Regions from separate parts of the Homo sapiens genome. Here region 2 is linked to region 1. The links come from fine-mapping of genetic effects on gene expression. Tissue or cell type: spinal cord. Region 1 holds a variant in brackets; the other region holds the start of a gene. All regions are shown on one strand. Distances are between the middles of the regions.

What was found. PIP is the estimated chance that this variant, and not a neighbour inherited with it, causes the effect.
Region 2: SLC5A7 starts here. The variant in region 1 is fine-mapped to the expression of SLC5A7 in spinal cord (GTEx, PIP above 0.99).

The regions. Positions count from the first base shown.
Region 1 is chr2:107,886,089-107,894,196 of GRCh38, forward strand. It overlaps RGPD4 (RANBP2 like and GRIP domain containing 4), which reads left to right. Exons shown (of 23, transcript NM_182588.3): 23 at 4,633-6,456. The coding sequence ends at 4,643. All of the region lies in intron 1 of LOC124906057 (a long non-coding RNA gene), which reads right to left. Among named protein-coding and RNA genes, the nearest start is that of RGPD4, 63 kb to the left of the region's middle. The variant G/T (reference allele first, on the strand shown) is at 3,579.
Region 2 is chr2:107,983,290-107,991,397 of GRCh38, forward strand. It overlaps SLC5A7 (solute carrier family 5 member 7), which reads left to right and starts at 3,235. Exons shown (of 9, transcript NM_021815.5): 1 at 3,235-3,474; 2 at 4,816-5,044. The coding sequence starts at 4,867.

The sequences.
Region 1 (8,108 bases):
CAAAAGAAATTACACAGAATTCAGCATGGGAGAAACAAAAAACAAGAGTGGGAAAAGACATCAAACATGTTTTTACTAATCGAAGTTCTAAAAGGAGAGACAAGAATACAGCACAGATAATATATGAAGAGAATGGCTGGAAATCTTTCAGAACTGTTGAAGGATATCTATCCACAGATTCAAAAACCCAATAAAATCTCAAGCAGTATTAAAAAAAAAAAGAAGAAATCTACTTCTAGTCACATAAGAGTAAAACTGCCCCTAAAAAAGACAGACAGAAATCTCAAAAGCAGCCAGAGAAAGAAGACACATTGCCTCACAATAGACTTCTCAACAGCATTGGTGTAATACTATCTCATGTACTAAAAGAAATAACTGCCAACCTTTTATATTTTCCAAGATCTCTTCTGGAAAACAAAAACTTTAAGAATCTGCCTTCACTGAAAATTCTTAATGATGTACTTCAAGCAAAAAGAAAATTTCCTAGGTAAAAGGTCTAAGATGCCAGAAAGAAAGACATGCAAAGGAAACTTACCACCATATTACAGATATGGACTGTCAGTCTGACTGGTCACACTAGGGGGGCATTTTGTTACCAAGGCCTTGAAAATAATAACCAACACTGCATACATGAGGGATGCTAGAAGAAAGGTCTGAGAGCCACTCTTCCTGGCACTGAAGGAAACAGGGCCCATCAGAGCAAACAAGTACCTTTTACCTCTCTCATCTCCTTGGAAGCAAATGTTTATAATCTCTGGTTTTGTGTAAAGTTTATAATAGTATTTTTCATTCAGGTTGCTACCTATTAGTGGATGGTGAAATTAATTTGGTGGATCACATTCAGAATATTTTTTTAAAATCAAAAGAATACAAGCTGGGCTCAGTGACTCACACCTGTAAGCCCAACAGTTTGAGAAGACCAGGCAGGAGGATTGCTTGAGAACAGGAGTTCAGAATCAGCCTGGGCAACATGGCGAGACCCTATGTCTACAAAAATTTTAAAATATGCCAGTTCTGGTGGCATGTGCCCATAGTCCTAGCTACTCGGGAGGCTAAGGCAGCAGGATTCTTTGTTATAAGGAGTTCGAGGCTGCAGTCGAACTTCTGGTCGAAATCCTGGTCACGCCACTGCATTTCAGCCTGGGCAACAGAGTAAAACCCCATCTTTAAAAAAAATTAAGAAATAAAAATAATATGTGAAACATTAGAATATGTTGAATCTAGTAAGGCTAATGTTGAATCTAGTAAGGATAAGCAATTATTTCTTGACACTCTACATATATACATGAGTGTTGGTAAATACCTGACTGTATCATCAGCTCTAGATATAAAATGTTTATGATGTTGGCTGTGAGTTAATGATGAATAGTTTTCCTTTCTGTGGGTTTGGGTGTATTTGGGAAACATTAGCTTAGGGGGTAAAGTAGGTTACCCAACTCTGAAAAGCAGCATCAAAATCTTTATAATAAACACATACTAGGGGCCCAACTTAAATTTCAAGCAGATGTCATGAGCTGCTCAGAGTAGCGTGTTACAACTCTGCGTTATAAGGTAAAATGACTTAGAGTGTAGCAGTAGTCCCCAAACAATGTCAAATAGACAGTGGTAAGTATAGATTGCTCTTCTCCTTGCATCACAAATGTTAATTCACCCTGCCCCCACACGCATTAAAACTCAGCATATTTCACAAATTGAGTGTTTCATTTCTATTTGAGATAGACTTATGGTAAGTCAGCTTTGCTCCCCAAATAAGTTAGCCATATAGTACTTCTATATGCAAAATTTGAATCTCAATTTTACTACTCAAGCCGGAAGTAAAAGTCATTTTTCTATATCTTCTTTGCTCCCAGACTGGGTTACAGTTTACAGATCTGAATATTGTCACTTGTACACCATACATACACAGAGGTCTAAAACTCTCTACAAGTAAATAAAGAAAAAAAGCCCAGCAACCCAATAGGAAAATAGGCCAAGCCTGTTATAGGCTTTTTGATCATCTCCAGACTGGCAGGAAGAGAATGCATACTCACACTGTAAGTGCCTGATTTGATTTGCAGAGGATATAGAACCTTATCAGAAAACAACCTTCCAAGGCAAGAGCAAATGCACCCTATCTAAGCACAGCTTTTCTCCAATTCTTATTTACCTAAGGAGATGAATAGTTACCAGGAACATTGTTTGCACAAGGGCAGGAGCCTGCCAGATCTGAGAACACAGCAAAATTTTTATTTTGTCAAAAATCTTATATTCAGCTTACACCATTCATTGCAGGTGAACATACAACAGTGCATTTCAGTTTAGGGAAATGTTTACAGTCATCTGGTTCTCTTTATTCCTGGGAACAAGGTTACCTCACTTGGAACACATAACCAGTGCCAAGTTGTCCATCCCTAAGCAATATCGCTTCCTTCTACTTTCTAGAAGTTCTTCAGATTGTGGAAGAGAGACTTTTCAGAGTTCTTTGCCCTCATTCCCTCCTCCAGAAATTCATGCCTTTGTATAATCTCTTCCCCTTCAGAGCCAGTAGGCTAACCTAATGAGTTATTTTTAACCAGTAGAATACAGCAAAAATGATAGATTACAAGAGATTGTGGCTTCTATCTTGCTAGTGGACTCTCTCTGTCTTCTCTGCTTGCACACTTTGTTGAAGCAAGCTACCATCCCAGAGGCAAGGAACACAGGCCATCAGTTTAGCAGCCTTGAGGAACTAAACTCTTCCAACTACCACATAAGTTTGGAAGTAGATTCTCCAGTCCAGCCTTCAGATGAGACCCCAGCCATGCCAACATCTTGATTGCAGCCCTGTGAGAGACCTTGAAATAGAACCATTTCTGATCTCCTGACCCACAGAAACTGTGAAATAAATATGTGTTAAGGTACTAAGTTTGTAGTAATTTGTTACGCAGCAGATTGTAAATAACACGCAGATAAAACCAGACAGAACAGAAAAATAAAATGACTTTAACTCTAGAAAGTTTCCCCATGTAAAATTTTGAAAATGCTACTCTGCGTAAGGTCAAACTGTCATACATATATACGTATGAAAACACAGAATGGTGTCTGGAAGGGTAATGCCAAATTAAATCTTTATCCAAGAGGAATGAAAACCAGTATTCACACAAAATCCTATGCACAAACCTTGTGAATATATTAAAAACCAGTGAATTATGCACTTTAAAAAGGTGAATTATGTGGTATATGAATTATATCTCCAAAACATTTAATTAAAAACCTGTACACAATTATTCGTAGAAACTTTCTTTAAAATTGCTAAAAACGAGGAAGATCTCAGTTATCCTTCAACTGGCAAATGAATAAACAAACTGGTACAGCCATGCAATTGAATACTGCTCAGCAATAAAAAAGAATGCACTGCCAGTACAGCAACATGGATAATTCTCAAATGCATTATGCCAGTTGACAGAGGTCAGACTCAAAATACTATGTACAGTGTGATTCTACTTATATGACACTGAAAAAAGCAGAACTATAAGGACAGAAAACAGGTTAGCGGTTGCCAAGGAGTGGGAGAAGCAGCCAGGGAGAACTTTGAGGAGGTGAAAATGTGCCAGGCCTTG[G/T]TCGGTGGTGGTACGTAACTGTGCATTTGTCAAGACTCAGTGCTATACGCTGAAAAGGGCAGGTTTTACTATAAGTAAGTTGTACCTCAATAAACATGATTTTTAAATGATTAAAACTTTGGTTTTTGTTTGTTTTGGTTCAGTTTTAAGGTTTACCATAAATCTATTGGTTTTAGATTCTAAGTTGTATATAAGCTTCTGTTTTAAAAGAATTTTTTTTAAAATCCTCTTATCATCAACAATATTTAGTTGTGCTGGAAATTTTATTTTGGAATTGTTTAATAGAGAAAGACAATAAATAATGTTCAAGAACAGACATTGATTCATAACATCAAAGTATATTGTGAGAAGATGGTATTTCAGAATAGAGGAAGAATTTCTTATGTGCTGGTAAGATTGTAGATAATCATTTCTGCATAATTTTCATAGCTGGATTGCTTTAATAAAGCCATTTAAAGGTTAAGTTCTAGATTGCTTCATGTTGCTTATCAATGTTTTAAAGCTAAAATAGAAAATTAGCTGTTAAGTTGGCTCAACCGGAAATTCAGTATATCCTTTAAAAAGAGAAATTTAGTAAGCAGTGTGTCTAAAGAATGACATATGGTTGGGTACAGTGGCTCGTGACTGTAATCCCAACACTGTAAGGCTGAAGTGGGAGGATCACTTGAGCCCAGGAATTTGAGACCAGCCTGGAAAACAGTGAGACCTGCATCTCTACAAAAAAACAAAAAATTACCCAGGCATGGTGGCACACACCTTGTGGTCCCAGTTGCTTGGGAGGCTGAGGTGGGAGAATCACTTGAGCCTGGGAGATCAAGGCTGCACTGAAGTCTCATCACGCCACTGCACTCCAGCCTGGGTGACAGAGCAAGACCCTGTCTCAAAAAAAAAAAAAAAAAAAAAAAAAGAACCCCCCCCCCCCAACAAAAAAGGCATGTGATCAGTAAAAAAGACATTATTTGCTTATATTGTAGAGTGGTTCTAAAATATAGATTTTACATTGAGAAATTTTAATACTCTCTTTTTTCTTTTTTTTTTGTTTTACTTTCCAAAGGTGAGGAATAAAATGCTTCCCGTTCTTCTGGATGGGCATCCTATCTTCGTAGTTGGTTTGGACTTCGATAGGTTGATGGAAGGAATATTTTTATTAACCAAATAAAATCTATTTACAAAAATGGTTCATGTGTATTACCATCATTCTTTTGTCAAAAAGTGTGTATATGTTTGCATTTACATATATTTGTACATCTATATGACAGATGTATTTTAAAAGTTTCAACTTGAAGTAAAAGTACAACAGCTTGAAGTATTGATACCAGGCCACAGCCCTCTAACTCATGTGATCTCCCATGCATGCTGCCAGAATAAAACCACCAGGAATGAATTCACTCCCCACTTCTCTGGAACCTCAGGACCCGCCCATTTCTCGGCAGTACTGTGAATTTTGAAGTTAAACTAAATTTTGGTACCATACCAACTGGAATTTAGGCTTTAAAAATAATGTTTCAAGGCCAGGTGTGGTGATTCATGCCTGAAATCCCACTACTTTGGGAGGCTGAGGCTGGAGAATCGTTTGAGGCTAGTGAGCTGTGATTGTACCACTGCACTCCAGCTCGGGGAACAGAGCGAGACCTTGTCTCTAAAAATAATAATAGTAATAAAAATAACATTTTATGACTATTTATTGCAAGGTCAGATTTACAGATTGTTATAAATTGTTGAGAAATTTTTGTGATTAGAATATGAAGGAAAAAGCTTTGTTGGTAAAAGTGACATGTTAAGGGGCTATGAAGTAAATATGCTGCAGTTAATTGTGCTAAGTTAAAATACAGTTTAGTTATTTGCTTTAAAATAAACTCTTCTTTTTTTCTTTAAAGTATACTATCTCAAAACTCATTATGTTGTCAGAGCCCTAGAGCTGGCTAATGTAACACTGACTATGAGTAGGTGGGCCCACCACTTGAGTTGAGGTGATTTCATGGTGTCTTTCCAGGCTCTTGATAGGGTGTCACTGCATGCAAGCCATGAATCTGTTTTGAGAATCCTCTCCATTTTCCCAAATAAAAACCTATCCCAACAGTGACTATATCACTCAGCATTGGATCTAAATATAAAAGTGGTGCTTTCAGTGTTTTTGGCAGATAGTGTTCCATAAGCTTTCCATCAGAAGGGATTTTAGACACCTTAGAGGTCCGTGCTACATCTTCACAGTTCCTCTGAATAACCTTAGGTGGTAGTGTTACTTGCCTTTGACACCTCTGCATATGTTTTAATGACTAGATCCAAACTGTGTTGTTCTTAAATCAAAAATTGGATAATTTTTAATATTTATGTATTAATCACATAGTATGCTCTCTGAAGTTCTCTTAAGCCTTCAGTTTATACTCTTAATTTTCTTTCTGAGCTGGGGAACTGACTTTGCACTTTGGTTACACAGAACATTGGTTTCCAATTTAGTTTAACTGAAATTTGCTGCTGATATGTTGAGTTTGTTCTTTAAAAAATATCTCATATGTCTCGTCTTTCCTCCTTAGAAGAACAGACCTAACTAGCGAATGTATGAATGAAAATGCATCTATTTCAGAGCCGACATGAAGAGTTTAGTTTTTTTACTTTATAAACTGTGAATATGAGTATGCCAGCTGCATTAGATGTAACTAATCATATTTAAATATATTTCACTTTCTCTTTGACTTGAGACCTTTTGAAGTCTGTATAAACTTGTTTTGAAATATAGTCTCCACTTACAAATGTCATAACAAAATACTTTTTTGCATGATAAAAAATTGATTACAAAAGGCATATTCTTTCATGGTTTCTGCAATGAGAGGAAGTGTAATGATTATTTTAATATTTCTATTAAATATGTTTAACTGTATATTTTTATGGCAGCTCTTTTATGTTACACACTGTCTCTTTGGGGTTGTTAATTGGTTTCTGAAAGGGAACTTCAAACTCCTTTACTACTGGCCTTCCATGGTTGGTCCCTATTAGGTTGTTGTGAGAACGTCGACCAACTCTTTGATACCCGCCACGTAGACCGTAGTACCTGCCATGTCTGACACCCTGCATCCAGCTAAAACCAGAAACAGCGCTGGGCCTCCCTGTGGACAAGACATTGATTTGACCAGAAGCAGATGTCTGGCTAAGGCTGCCAACCAAAGGGTGGCCTTAGATGAAGGGCTTTGTTCAGTTAGGGGCAGAGGTCATTAATTTTTTTTTTTTTTTTTTTGAGACAGAGTCTTGCTCTGTCGCCCAGGCGTGAGTGCAATGGCGCGATTTCGGGTCACTGCAAGCTCTGCCTCCCAGGTTCACGCCATTCTCCTGCCTCAGCCTCCTAAGTAGCTGGGACTACAGGCGCCCGCCACCATGCCCGGCTAATTTTTTGTATTTTTAGTAGAGACGGGGTTTCACCGTGTTAGCCAGGATGGTCTCGATCTCCTGGAGGTAATTAATTTCTTTGGATGTTTGGACTAGGAGATGGGGAGAGGCAGAGCAGAAAGAGAAACACAGATGCCGCAAGAAGGAGGAACAGAGCTAACCCTGGATAGGACTGGACACAGCAGCCAGACCAAGAGAGGCATCTAGTGAGAAGCAGCTCTTCAGCCCTGGGCCTGGTGCACACATCACTCCTTGGTTTCTAAGAACCAAATTTGGCCCAGCACAGTGGCTCATGCCTGTAATCCCAGCACCTTGGGAGGCCAAAGCGGGTAGATCATGAGGTCAAGAGATCGAGACCATCCTGGCCAACATGGTGAAACCCCGTCTCTACTAAAAACACACAAAAAATCAGCTGGGCATGGTGGTGTGCACCTGTAGTCCCAGCTACTTGGGAGGCTGAGGCAGGAGAATCACTTGAACCCGGGTGGCAGAGTCCAGTGAGCTGAGATCACACTACTGCACTCCAGCCTGGTGACAGAGTGAGACTCCGTCAAAAAAATAAATAAAAATAAAGCCAAATTCATACAGTCCCTGAGGAGTGGGAACTGATGCACATCTCTTGTATACAATAAGCTATGCTTGTGCTCTGAACAGTGTAAGATTGAGAATTGTATTCCTTTAAAGAAAGTTCAGCAGAACTGTAACTGAATTACTAACAAGGCACTGAGAAGGCATACCGTACTTTGTATTCTTTTTAAAGTCCCTGTTAGGTGGTGGTGTAGCTGGAAGTGTATAGTATTGAGGATGTAAAGTTTCCCCTAAAAAATTTTTGGTATTTGGCGAATGGCATAACACATCAAAAAATTGGTTGTATCACATGATTAAATTGCAACGTGATGATTTCAACTTGGTGGAAGACTTCTGCTTCGTCTTGGTATGTGAAAATCCCCTTTGCTTCAAACTTAATACACACCAAGGAAAACAACCTGATACAAGTTTGCAAGTGTCTTTGAGCTAATGGCTTTTCATGGGTATTAAAAAGCATTGAGTTATTTATGTATAATTACGTAGAAAGAAAATGTTTGTTCCATTCAAGATACGGTTACACGAAAAGGCATCTAGTTGTGACCTTCAAATTATTACTTATAT
Region 2 (8,108 bases), 97 kb after region 1:
CCTTGCCCAAGATATACAAAGTCAGAATTCATGCTGTGGGGCCTTAGTATCTGCAATTTTTCAAGAACTCTACAATTCCGATAGTCACCCTGGTTTGGAAATGACTGGCCAATTTTAATTTAAGCTAAATGTAATCCATTAAAAAGTATGAAAGATTTGAGTTGACATTGTATGGGGAAACTGGAGCATTAGGAAGGATAATAACTTCAGCAAAATGGGCCCCCACAGTCTCAATATGCATTTGGATCATATTTGAAGCATGTTCAAAATGTATAGACCAAGTGATGACATTCTCAAATTACCAAAGCTGTTATTAAAAAAGAAAAATGTAATGCTGACGCTGCTGTTCCATGAAGTGTACTTTGAATGGCAAGGTCAGAGGGTGTTAACCTATTAAAGACAGGGATCTTTTCATTTCAATCAATTGAGTATATACCTAGCACAAAGCAGCAGGTGTTTTGTTGTTGTTGTTGTTGTTCGTTGAGACAGAGTCTCTCTCTGTCAGCCAGACTGGAGTGCAGTGGCACAATCTCGGCTCACTGCAACCTCCACCTCCAGGGCTCAAGGAATTCTCCTGCCTCAGCCTCCCGAGTAGCTGGGATTACAGACATGTGCCACCATGCCCGGCTAATTTTTGTATTTTCAGTAGAGACGGGGTTTCACCATGTTAGCCAACCTGGTCTCGAACTCTTGACCTCAAATAAACCGCCCACCTCGGCCTCCCAAATTGCTGGGATTACAGGCGTGAGCCACCGTGCCCGGCCAGGTGTTTTTATATATTTATTGAATAAATGACTCTCCCCGCTCCTCCGAGAAGAATTCCTCCATCTGATTAAGACCTTTTGTTTGAACTTTCCCTAGAATCTGTGTGTACAGATATGCTACATCCTTCTCAGCACTTACAATAGTATATAGAAGTGCAGCTTTTGCTTGTTTGTTCCTTCTTTCTTTTCATGGATAAGTTACTTGAGGGCAAGGTTTGTATAATTTTCTACATGTATTCTCAGTACTGAGAACAGTGTTCAGAATGTAAAAGGCACTTAGAAAATGTGTTTTTAAAAAATAAATGATTTATAAATGCAAAACCTGCTTTTTCTCCCCAAAAGCGGGAATTGATCTCCCACTGACATGTAGTTCCCTAAGTCCGTGCATGATAACATATTCTCAGGAGAGTGGAGGAAGAGGTACACATTAAAGTACCAATATTAAAGACAAAAGAGAAATGGGTGTCTGGGAAATTACACCTTGGCACAGAAATTCACATGCAGCTTCATCCTTAGATCAGACACGGAGCGCAAAGGACTCAGCAAATGAGGAAATGTCTCCCCAGAACTAGACTCAATTCATCAGCAGTTGTCATTTTCAACTGGTGTTTCTTGTCATGGAGGACAGCCGCTCTGCCAGGCAAGAATTTGGCCACTGTCAAGGTCATTGTCCATTCTCAGATCTGGCACTGAGTCCATAGTCTGGCAAGCCTGGCTTGTCAAAGTGGATTAGGTGGGCTCTGGGAGGTGTGCTTTGGCTGCACTCCCAATTCTCATACCGAAAGGCTGGTGATGTTCTCTGAGGACGGCTGCCTCTTCAGTCTCTCTTTGGATCTGAGTCAAGCTCCCTGACCTTAGGCCTGTGCACTATTTCAGACACTGCAATTGCCCATGCCTGCCCTGCTACAGCAATAAGCTGTGTGTCATCATCATCATTAGTATATTCTGGCAGGAAATACATCAGTTAACCTGAGGCTAAGGCCCAGAATCAGAAAATGAGTTATAGAAGACAAAAACAATGAATGAATGGATGGATGAATGAATGAATGAACCTCTTTTAAAACACATGGGTAATTATATGAAATCCCATCTCTGTTTCGCTCTGTCAGTTCCTTAAAATTGCTTAAATTAATAAAATGTGTATGTAAAAATGGGGTTATATTAAAAGGCAACCTAAGTCTTTTCCAGAAAATCAATGAACTAGTCATATTACCCAGGGGAAATAACTATCTTTGCAGGCCTTTTGGCCCGTCTTAATTTCTGTTTGAACTCCCTAGGCTTTCTCACCTCAAAAGAGGTAGTTGGATGCAGTTATTGTTTATACAGAGAAGAAAGAAAAGGGGTAGTAACATAAATTTGGAAGTTAATTTCAAAATCCAGTGTAAGAAAAGGGGAGATGGTCTGATTGGCCTAGAGAGGTGAACAGTAGTTCAGAGGCACTCTTATTTATTCTATCCCTTATTAGACTTGTGTATTTCACTGTTAAATACACTCTCATGGTGGAATGCGGAAAGAAGTGAGAAAGTGGCCAGAGTGCTTGTAGCTTTGTGGCTTGTGACTCTTCTATCTTATTCTCTCCCACCCTTCTCTCTTCCTCCATTCACATTCACACAGGTATCTGCATCTATCCATGTACACCTAGATGTAGAAATACATCTATAGATACATATTTATATGTGTAATATATAAATAATCTATAAAAATAGGTAGGTATATGGATATATTGTAAACTAACACAGCAAATTTTTGTAAGCTGGAATAGGATATTCAGCAGGCCAGCTGCCCAAAGGGCTCTACCAGGAAAGCCATCTTGTCTGACTTCTGTGATAACCTCATTGTTAATCTGGACCACGCCTAGTGTCCTTCATGGTAGCCCTACTTTTAAGTGGCAGGGGTATGAATGTAAAAAGGACTTTCTAAACCTTCCTGAAATGTCTCCTTCAGGGAGCCCATCACCAGGGACGCCAGGAACAGCTTCCAACAGGGCCCAGGGGAGGCCGCGGGAGAGGACCCCTTCCCTCTCAGAGAGACTCGTCAGGAAACAATTCCAGACTCTGACCTGGGAAGAAAAGAACAGGACACTTCTCTCCTCTAGGCTTCCAGCTGCTGCTTCTGAAAATATAATCCTCTGAGACCCTCCCCATTCCCAGCTTCCAACCAGAGGGATGAGAAGTTCGACTGGGAATCACCCTAAGGAATCTCCGCCCAGTTTTCTGGAGGAGGAGATGGGAGTAGCAGGTACTTGTCTCAGGATGGGGATACCATGGCTGGCAGCGCGGACCAGAGCCCAGCCTGCCCCCCAGCTCCTTGGGCCCCGTTTCCTTCGCATCCCGCACACCCACCCTCCTCGCGAGGGCAGCGTCCCTAGCACACGCCCTAGCACCACTCTCCTCTGACGTCCGCCTCCGGATGTCTGACGATCGCCCCCGCCTGCCGCCCTTATAAAGGGGACTTTTCCCAATACTCGATCGATTCCCACCTCGCCCTGCGCCGCGCGCCCTCCGCCGGCGCCAACACCTGTCAACTCTGCGCGCTCCCAGGTTCTTGGAGACGCCGAGTGAGGAGCCGCCCTGACCGCCCGGCCCCGCTCCGCACTGCACCCCGACCCACCCCGCACCCTCCCTTTCTGCACCCTCGCACCCACACCCCTCGCGGTTCCAGGGGGCGGCGGCCCCGGGCGGAGCGCTTTCGCGTGCAGCCACCACTCCAGGTAGGAGCGGAGCGGGCATTCCTGCGCCTACGGGCCCGCACCCTCGGAAACGCCTTGGGCACCGAGCCCGGGCGGTTTTAGAGGGGAGGGACGCGGCGTTTTTCCCTCTCGGTGGGATGCGAGGGCGGGTTTGCTGTCTGGCACCGTTGCTGTCAGGGTGCAAGAGGCTACAAAGTCTGGGCGCAGGAAATGGGTAGAGGGGGCCGAGGAAAGGCCGCAGGGGGCCGGGAGAGCATCGGGCTGCTGCGGAGAGGAACTTGCCTGCTTGGTTGCTCACAAAGGCAGAGAAGACACAGCCCGCGGGCGCTTCTTTTGCCTCCTTTAAATTCCAGAGAGGCTGATTCTTTCCCCCAACGTCTCTTCACCCACCTGCACGCACAAATGTCAGAGTTTCCCCCAGAAACTTGTATGTGAGAGTTTGGGTTCATGGAACAGCTGTGGTCACAAAGGTAAAAAATAAATAAAAATAAAAATAAAAGGGGACAAGAATTTCAGAAGGTGAATGCTTTCGAACTTGACATCTGTCTTCTAAGAGTCTTGATTTTAATATCTTTGAGGCTTCTGATGTGCTTTTAGGCAATTGTGTTTAAAACAACAGCAACAACAACAACAAAACCTTTTCCTGTATGTACCATTAATGGGGGGTGATGAATTGAATGAAGGATATTGGGCGAAGAAGATCAAGAGAATGGATCCTTTCAACAACAAAAAACATACTTAGTTGCTATAGTAACTTGAACTACAGAAGCTTGTTGAAAATGTGGAGTTTGATGTGTTTTTGAAATGGATTTTTCTAAAGATTTTTTTCAGATATTTTTATATCAGATTACTACTGAAGCCATTCTCTGAAGTTGTTTGAAAGGACAGATAAAAGAATGAATAAATTAATGAATATTTTAAAATTTTCAGAATGGTCATTTATGAAACACTTAACACTTCTAGAATAAATAATTCTAGAAGAGTAACTTAGTTCCAAAACGCAGATACAGCGCTACTCTTTGTAAATGATTTGACAGTTACTGAGTTAAGATATACACGACAAGGTTAATTTTAAATTTAAAGCATGTATGAAACACACAAGGATTATGATTCCATTTGTTAAACTACATTTCCGTTTTTTTTTCTGTTTCTTGCAAACTCAAAATAATGTTAAATTGTTAAATAGAAGTAGGATAATGTAGTGGACACTTATTGTTAACTGCCCGTTTCACGTGTGGTTTCAGGGTTGTACTCTTTCTGTGAGTGGCACAGGATCTCGCATGAGCCAGCTGGTTTATTCCTGGCTGCCTACATGTGCATAGTGCTTGACTGGTTTATAATGCATCCCTGTATTTTCTTCAGAAGACTTAATGAAGTAGCCAGCTGCAGAAGAATCTGGATCATTAGATAAAAATGGCTTTCCATGTGGAAGGACTGATAGCTATCATCGTGTTCTACCTTCTAATTTTGCTGGTTGGAATATGGGCTGCCTGGAGAACCAAAAACAGTGGCAGCGCAGAAGAGCGCAGCGAAGCCATCATAGTTGGTGGCCGAGATATTGGTTTATTGGTTGGTGGATTTACCATGACAGGTACGTTCAGACGCCGCCGGCTCCATGCAGTCCTCCCTTCCTTGGCATCTGTGAGTGTGCAGCGTGTGGCTTCAGAGTGACAAAGCAAATGTTGGTCTTTGTCCTTTGGGGATTCTTTATGTTCACTAGTTATATATATTTTAAAATAATTTTCTATTGATTTAAAACCTAAAAATAAATTGGTTTCAACTCAGTAGTACTTGAACAAAAATGATTTTATAATAAATCACTGGACTGAACAGTCATGAAACAAATCTTGGCTCCCTGGGCTATTGAGTGGGTGGAAACAGAGTAAAAACAAAGAGGTGGGGGAATGGGAAGCTGTCCTAGTATTACAAGCTATGTATCTGCTAATTAATGTGATAGGCAGCATCTCAACGTGTCCGGTAATACATGCATAAAGTTGTGACTTTGAGATTTAAATAAGTGCCAATGAATACCATCTAGTGATGGTTTTTAATCTGCATAAATAAATTTGGGGGTGATGATATTCCCAATTGAGTGATTCCCTGTTTTGAAACCTAATTCTTTCATTTAATAACTAATTCCTCACAGGAAGACAATCACATGTTATGAGTCCACAGCACTAATAAAGAGATTTCATGAACCTTGTTATAAAAGGGAAAAGCTAGGGTGTGTCCTCATAGGAATCCCCAGGCCACCATCTGCAGTCATCTCTCATTCAAACCTTCTTTGTGTTAGCAGGAGCTGATATTCTTTCTTACTTTGCACTAAAGTGGTTCTGTTTAAAGGGTGATTTGTTTCTTTTTTATATTCTTCTTGGTCGTTGAAAATAATTCTGAAAAACATCAACTTAGAATTATATGTTTAATATTTAATACAGTTGCACTAACAACACATATTTCATTATACAGTCTTAGTAGAGTTTTTAAACATTTGCAACATAGCAAGAACTGTGAGCGTTCATTGGAAAAATATCCCATGGGAAATGATATCAAGTGATGCCCAATTTCAGTCCCGAAGGGCAATTTTAAAATGATTCACCGTGTATATCAGATAGTTTACCAAACCAGTCTGGGGAGAGGCCATTCATGTTCTGAACCCCTTGACTTTGGCAATCTGAAACTTACAGTGTTCTATGTGAGCCATCAGTTTTATCTTTCAGACATTGACATTTTATCTTTGTTTAACTCTTCATCTACTGTACGTGGACTCATTTGGTCTTTATAACGGCATTATGATGAGCATCTGGGGTTAAGTGGAGATCCCGGGTTACAAGGTTAACAAGGACCAGGGCTGGAGCCAGAACCAAACACAGGTCTCCGGTAACTTAGTTCCAAAATGCAAGTACTGCGTCATGCTGGTGACCGCCCCATGCTGTGCCACATGCAGCCCTGTAACTAGTTTCACTTTATTTCTTTCAAAAGGTGCACAGTTTGTAAACACTGCAGAAAGAATAAGAAAGCTGCTGCATATCAAAATATGTTGTTTATTGAAAATAATTATAGCCCTCTACTATTCTCATTTAATATTCTGTTTAATATGGTCATAAAAATAATATTTTATATTTTGTTTTTACCATTTAGAATGGTTTTTTTCAACCTAACAAGCTATTAAAAGGTACGGAAAATATTTGAATCATGCTATTTTTTATAAAGGGCCATGATCTTCCTCAGTTCGTAAAACTTTTTTTTCTTTCTCAGAACTCAAAATAACCTTGGTCAATATCATAATTCATTTAAAATCTGAACCATACTACCTAACCTTGTCAGATTGATTGACTTGGATATATTTTATAAAGAATAGAGATAAAAAATGTTGATTCTTTTAAAAATGAATATATTTTAAGAGGTTGTGTTCTCACTCATGGATCTGACACAAAATATACAAACAAGGAGAGCAAATACTGTTATAGAAGAGACTAAATTCAATTATAAAGGGGACTTTTAAATCTTAGTAAGTAGCCAAGCCCTCACTTCTATATCACAATAGTTGCAATGATTCAGTCACCAATTTTCTTTTTGGACAAGGGACAGTAGACTTACACAATGACGAATGATCACTAATGAGCTTTGTGCTTGTAAGACCATCAGACCATTTACTTTATGCAGTAAAACATTGACGTGTTAGCAATTCCAGTTGCCTGGTAGAAAGATAAAGTCTCAAGTTTTCTGCCTGTAAGAATTCATTTCTTCAGCTCATGGTTACACACACAGTGAAAAAAAAAAGCCATTTTAAAAATTTCAGCAGGGCTTAGAATAAGAAAACAAATAATGCCATTTGTTATTTTTGTTATTTGTTAACACTGAGGGTAAAAGCTACAGCAAAGGTGGGAGTGATTGCTAAATACGTATTTGTCTCCAGGATTTTGTATATAAACTTTTCATTTAAATGTACTCAAAATTCCTATGTAGGAAAATCTTTTTATGTCAACCCTAAGACTCCCTCTTCTTTGCTTTGTATTAGATTAAAAGCCAGATAAATTTTGCCATAAACACAATAGAAACACATCCTAGGTAGTTTTGTATAGATATTATTTCATTTACTTACATTCTAACTGTGAGATTTTGGAAAATTCATCAGAGTTAAATTTTATTCCTAATGGGATGATGCAATCCAGAATTCAGCCTCATATCTGATAAATTTTTATTACCAACCTGTGACCATCATAACTTTACACAAATTCTGTATAAGGATTGCTTAGAATATTTTGACTGTACTGTAACCTCAACAAGGTGTAAACTGCAAAGATTTAGTGTCCTCTTCAACATTAGTTTTTCAGCAAGGATTCAATATTATACTGTTTCCTCAGAGAAAATGGTGCTAGCATTACATTGTCTATTCAGAGAAAAATATTAATCTGTAGATCATTCTTGGCTCAAACCTGTTAAGTCAAAACTCATTTTCTTTGGTTCTTTGACCTCCTTGCCTCAGCTATTGTGCTACATAAATTTTATTTATCTGAATAAGACATTTTTCATTACTTCTTGTCAAATAGTAAATATCTTACTAAAAGATCCATATTAAAATATAGAATTGCAAGTATGTATGCAGTTCACATTTTACCTTCTTCTGAGTGCTAGGTAGTCTAGGCCTTAAGGTA